2 separate regions of the Homo sapiens genome follow, and region 2 is linked to region 1. Evidence: fine-mapped expression QTL. A gene starts in region 1. The other region holds a variant in brackets. All regions are shown on one strand. Distances are between the middles of the regions. Region 1 holds the start of STX10 (syntaxin 10). Region 2 overlaps NACC1 (nucleus accumbens associated 1).

Region 1 (2,896 bases):
TCACTTCCTTCCCTCCAGGGGCCAGGAAGGCGTGACGCCAGGAAAGCACCCCGCAGCGGGTAGGGGCGACCTGAGGGCTCCCAGGGACGCCATCTCCCAGAGACGCTGCAGAACGACCCTGCATACACAGGAGACGACCCGCTGAGGCCCCCTTCATCCCATCTCTCCTCTTCCCAATTATTTCCCCCATACAAGGCCCCCTCCCAGGTTATTCCTGACCCCTGCCCCACACTGATCTTCTCAGGCCTTGGGACACCCTCCCGTCCCGCCCTTCCCCCGCACGCTGGGAACTCAAAAGTTATTCCCCCCTAAAATACCCTTCCCAAACTCGTCCCCATTCAACGATGGTGCCAGACTGCGACGACCTGCCGAAGACGCAGGCCGTCCCCACCCCGCTAACCTTACCACGGAGACCCCACAATGATTTCCCCAGCCCAGGCGCTATCTCTGAGACCCCACGCAGCAACTCTGACGCGCAAGGGGGCGACCCTCCGAGGACTCCCTCAGATAACCCGCCCACCCTCCAGGGGAGACCAGGCCCCCTATCACTCAAAAAAAGTGCTTTCCCGAAGCTCCCCAACACACAGCGCCACTGTCACACATAGGGACGACCCTGAGTCCCTCCGCTGATATTCCTGGCCCCTACCCAGACGGAGACCCCACACACAGAGGGCCCCCCTGGAGACCATCCTCAAAGCCACCACCCGCTACCCCCAGGCTCGCACCCAGAAAGACTCCGCGCTTCTGAAGAAACCCACCTCCACGCACTTTCTCAAAGGTGACCTCCCCCCGCTGCTGGCATATCTGGGACCCCCTCACGACCACCTCGCCCCAAGGCGACCTCGAAGTGCCCCCAACTCCGCCACTTCTCAGGAAAGAGATTGGGAGAATGCGGCAGAACTCCCCGGAGGAGCAGGCCCGCTCCTCACCGCGCCCCCGCAGGGAGAAGGGAGGACCACCTCTCCCCCAGACCCTAGCCAAACCTGACACTCGGGACCCTGGGATGGGACGATCTCCCAGGTGCCAGCTCAGGGAGTCCATGAAAAGCTTCAACGAATCGAATGAGCCCCTTCCCCAGCCATAATACCCAGCCGCCAGAGATGAGGGAGGCTATCATTATTTACATTGCCCGTGCCTGGAAGGGAAACTGAAGTTGCGCAGGAACAATCCGAGGAACTGGGCCTTGAACCGAAATTCCGAACTCGGACCCGAATAGGCCCAGACAGAACTCCGACACCGCCCCCTACGGTGCGGCACGAGAGGGCTAAGGGGCGGGGGCATGTGCACCGGAAGCTGCCTCTGCCCACAACCAAGATGGCTGAGGAGAGGGCGGAAGTGTCCGCACGTCGGGCCTCCGAGGCTTCTCTTTCTCCCCTGGCGGTCCGGCTCTCGATGGTGGCGTGACGGGGGCGGGGGTGGCGGCGCGTTCTCCTCGGTTGGGAGGGAACCAGCCCGCGAACCCAGGCCGGGAGGGGGGTTCGGCCTGGGGGGGAAGGGACTGACATGTCTCTCGAAGACCCCTTTTTTGTAGTCCGAGGGTGAGTGACAACGACGGGGGAGGGCGGAGGGTGCTCTGTACCCAAGCCAGCCAGTGCCCGGGTGCCGGCCCCAGCGTGCCCGGCGGGCTGGGCAAGGCCGTCGGGGTGCAGAGTGGGAGGCGCACGCAGGGGTATATAGGGGTCTCCGGAGTCCCCCATGCGTTTGGGTTTGCAGTCGGGGGCAGAGGCAGGCGGGAGGACCGCCTGCCCCCAGCCGCGCCCGCCGTGCCCCTGCCCGCAGCGAGGTGCAGAAGGCGGTGAACACGGCCCGCGGGCTGTACCAGCGCTGGTGCGAGCTCCTGCAGGAAAGCGCGGCGGTCGGACGCGAGGAGCTGGACTGGACGACCAATGAGCTGCGGAATGGCCTGCGCAGCATCGAGTGGGACCTCGAGGACCTGGAAGAGACCATCGATATCCTGGGGCTTTGTGGCAGAGGGTGGCATGGGAGAGCCCATTGCGGTGGCAGCCCACCTTCGGGTAGGGCTGGACCCCTAGGGACGGGGATGATATCTGGCTCCGGCCTTGACCCTTGACTCTCAGCCCACGTATAGTGGAAGCCAACCCAGGCAAGTTCAAGCTCCCAGCCGGGGACCTGCAGGAGAGAAAGGTGTTCGTGGAGCGGATGCGAGAGGCAGTCCAGGTCAGGAAAGGTCCTGCAGGCGGGGAGTGGGGGAAGGTTTGAGTGTGTTTTTTTTTCTTTCTTTCTTTCTTTTTTTTTTTTTTTTTTGAGACAGAGCCTCGCTCTGTCGCCCAGGCTGGAGTACAGTGTTGCAATCTCGGCTCACTGCAACCTCCGCCTCCCAGGCTCAAGCGATTCTTGTGTCTCAGTCTCCTGAGTAGCTGGGACTACAGGTGCCTGCCACGATACCCGGCTAAGTTTTGTGTTTTTAGTAGAGACGGGGTTTCACCATGTTGATCAGGCTGGTCTCGAACTCCTGACCTCAGGTGATCCACCCGGCTTGGTCTCTCAAAGTGCTAGGATTACAGGCGTGAGCCACCGCGCCCAGCCTGAGTGTCTTTCCTCCCTAATGCTGTCCTTACCTCCAGGAAATGAAGGACCATATGGTCAGCCCAACAGCCGTAGCATTTTTGGAGAGGAATAACAGAGAGGTAAGCCTTCCTGACCCACCCTGCCCACCTGAGCCCCTGGGGGTAACCAAGCCAGATCCCTCTGTGCGTGTTCACCTGTCCCTTTTGCGACAGTGCCCGTCCTCTCTGTGGGCAGTTATCTTCTTGCTGTCTACCTGCCTGCACTTTCTCGGTGTGTGCACCTGAACCTCTCTATGTGTATATGTCCGTGGGTTCCTCTCTACTGTGTCCTCTGGGTCTATACTGGTTTCCTGTTGCAGGAGAGGGCT
Region 2 (2,896 bases), 27 kb after region 1:
ACTGGGTTTCTCCATGTTGGCCAGGCTGGTCTCAAAACTCCTGGCCTCAAGTGATCCGCCCACCTCAGCCTCCCAAAGAGCTGGGATTACAGGCGTGAGCCACTGCACCTGGCCTGTATTTTTTTTCTTATACACCCACAGATTTAATTCGTTATCTCTTTCCCTGAATGACTATTGTTAAATCCATGGTGGAATAGGATTAGTAACAGTGTCCCCTACTCAAGCCTCACTGACTGGGCCCATACCTGGCCAGGGCTCAGACAGGCTCATTTAACTTACTCTTCTTTACAGTTTCTGAGGAAGAAATGAGCCTGCCTGCCATTTCATGGATGGGAATGAGGCCCAGAGAGGTGAAGCCAGAGGTGGGGAACATGTAGCTGGTGAATGGCAGGCACAGGTTTATACCCAGGCCGTCTGGCTCCCGAATCAGGCAAAAATGTGAGGCAGCTGTGACTAGACCCATTTCACAGGTGGGAAAACTGGTGTTCAGAGAAGCAAGGCAGAGACCAGACGGGAACCCCGGACCGGCCGAGCCCAGAGCTGGGGCTCTTTACCTGAGCTACTGGATGTGTCCTCTCCAGAAACAGGGTCTTCTGCCTGTCTGAGGACCTCCACCTCAGGGTCTGGGGTGCCCTCTCTCTAATCCCCAAGGAAGGCCTTCTTCATTCTTTTCATTCTTCCTTTCCCAATCCTCCCAACTGCAGCTATTCTCTAGCCCCTTCTCCCTGCAACCACCATCTCCGGGAATGAGCAGTCTCCGCGTGCTGCCTCTCCCTCCTCCCACTCGCTCCTCCTCGCAGCCCTCGGCAATCTGGCCTCCCTTTGCAGGCAGCAGCTCCAGCTCCTTGGAGAGCCTGGCAGAAGCTCTGCCTCCGTCCTCATGGAGCTCGCAGCCTGCCCGCTCCCTCCCCACCAACTCCAACCATAAGCCCACCCTTCGGAGTTACATCCCACTCCCTGCGTGTAATCAGATCATACCCAAAAGACAGGGCAGCAGTGGCGGCAACCAAGGGTGGAGGGAACAACAGTAAGTGCAAAGGCCCTGAGGTGACCCTGGTGCCGCTAACACAAAGGAGGGTGGAGGGATGGGGATCATCCTGGGAGAGGGGCCTGCTGGGCTGTGCTAGGGAACCACGCAGGACCTAAGATTTTGAATCCTACTATTGTACTAGGCTCAAATCCCTTATAGAGCTTGTCACTCAGAATTACCCTCAATACTGCTCACCCCCCA[T/C]ATCAGTCTCCCATCTAGAAAATGGGCTGACAGCAGCAGCCACCTCACAAGGCTATTTCAAGGATTAAACAACCAAAGAACACAGGCCGATCGGCGCTCGCCCCGTAGTCGGTGCTCATGAATGCCAGCTGCTGTTAGTCGTATCCCCTGGCCCCGTGCTGGGCCGCAAACTCCCTGGGAGTAGAAGACATCTTATGCCTCTCACCATCTCCCAGACCTCGCACATTTCATGGGATTAACAGGCAGTGATCGCTGGGGTTTTCCCCAGAGCCTTCACAGCACTGTCCACTCACACCCCAGACGCCAACCTCTCCCGCAAACCTCATGATAACCAGACAGTGGAGATTCCCCACCCAGCCACTGCATTTGCGTCAATCATTCTTTGTGGTGGGGGCTGCCCTACACACTGTCTGATGTTGAACCGCATCCCTGGCCTATAAACCCACTAGATGCCAGCAGCACACCCCCCCCCCCCCGGCAGGGGCAACCAAAAATGTCCCCAGACATTCCCCAAGTGTCCCCGGAGGTAGGACTGTACCCAGTTGCGAATCACAGCAGTATAGTTGTGCCCACTTGTCACTCCTTATCAGAGGAGGACACTGAGGCTCAGAGGTAAAGACCTTTGCCCAGAGTCTCATGGCTGAGACAGGGGTGGTGCTAAGTGTGAAATTTCACTCTCTACTAGACCGTGTCTGCTCACCCTTACCTACCCTCTCCCTTTGCTCGATTTAGAAACCACGAACTGGACACAGTCAAAGCCCTCAGAGAAGACGCACAGGTCTCTAAGAACTGAGACCTTCGCCAAGGAGGCAGCACATGAGAAGGCTGGAGGGACATGACCACAACCACACACAGATCACAACCTAAGACACGTCACCTCTGCCGGCTCGGCTGGTCCTCACCCCACCTAATGTGCAAGCAGGCCCAGTCCCACCTCCCGGCCCCACCTCATGCGGCCCAGAGGGTTCTCTAGGGGAAGGCAGTAGCGGCTGAGAGGACTGAGGAGCAAATGCAGACACGAGGAACATGAAAGTGGCTGGAAGGCGGCACAGGGGTGGTAGCCAGACCACTTTGCAGCTTGTGTGAAGGAAGGACTAGGGTGCCTCAGTTGCCTTGTGTGTCAAATGATGATAACAGGCAGGACCTGCTAGCCACGGGCTTAAATGAGTTCGAGTGTGTACAAGTGCTGAGAGCAACCTAGGAGGAGAAACGAGGGGCACGGAGGATCTGAGGACGCAGAGTGGCATGAACACTGACTCATGTTTTCCAGCCCCGGTGGCTCACCACCATCCCAAAAGCAATATGCCCCACCAAGCCTGATGGGATCCCTCTCTCCACACAGGCTCTGGCAATGACACTGATGAAATCTAGGGTCAGACAATGTTGGGCCAACCCCAAACTCTCTCCAAACCCCCGGGCCTCCAGGCAGACTCCTTCAATAGACCCTGTAAGGCTGACCAAAACTCACATCTCCTCAAAGCCCAGCTCAAGAACCTGCTGGGGCTCCCTGCTGCCCGGCCAGGAGGCCAGATTTTTTAAATACCCTAGATGCAGGCCAAGGGGTTCTGAACTTCCATCTGGGGGTGATGGGCAGATCCAGGAGACCCAGAGACAGGGCTTCACTCTCTTGTGAATGGTACTAGAGTCTCTGTCTCCACAGTAGGG

Evidence for each region. PIP is the estimated chance that this variant, and not a neighbour inherited with it, causes the effect.
Region 2: its variant is fine-mapped to the expression of STX10 in whole blood (INTERVAL, PIP above 0.99). The same link has a PIP of 0.9 or more in blood mononuclear cells.

What each region holds. Positions count from the first base shown.
Region 1 is chr19:13,148,781-13,151,676 of GRCh38, reverse strand. It overlaps STX10 (syntaxin 10), which reads left to right and starts at 1,302. Exons shown (of 8, transcript NM_003765.3): 1 at 1,302-1,538; 2 at 1,780-1,949; 3 at 2,084-2,178; 4 at 2,586-2,648. The coding sequence starts at 1,504. IER2 (immediate early response 2) reads right to left here and starts at 1,266. Exons shown (of 2, transcript NM_004907.3): 1 at 1,125-1,266. RefSeq lists enhancers at 1,132-1,201, 1,222-1,421 and silencers at 1,542-1,701, 1,742-1,791.
Region 2 is chr19:13,121,335-13,124,230 of GRCh38, reverse strand. The region is part of intron 1 of NACC1 (nucleus accumbens associated 1); the gene reads right to left. Among named protein-coding and RNA genes, the nearest start is that of NACC1, 4.5 kb to the right of the region's middle. RefSeq lists enhancers at 244-903, 1,467-1,516 and a silencer at 1,887-1,956. The variant T/C (reference allele first, on the strand shown) is at 1,232.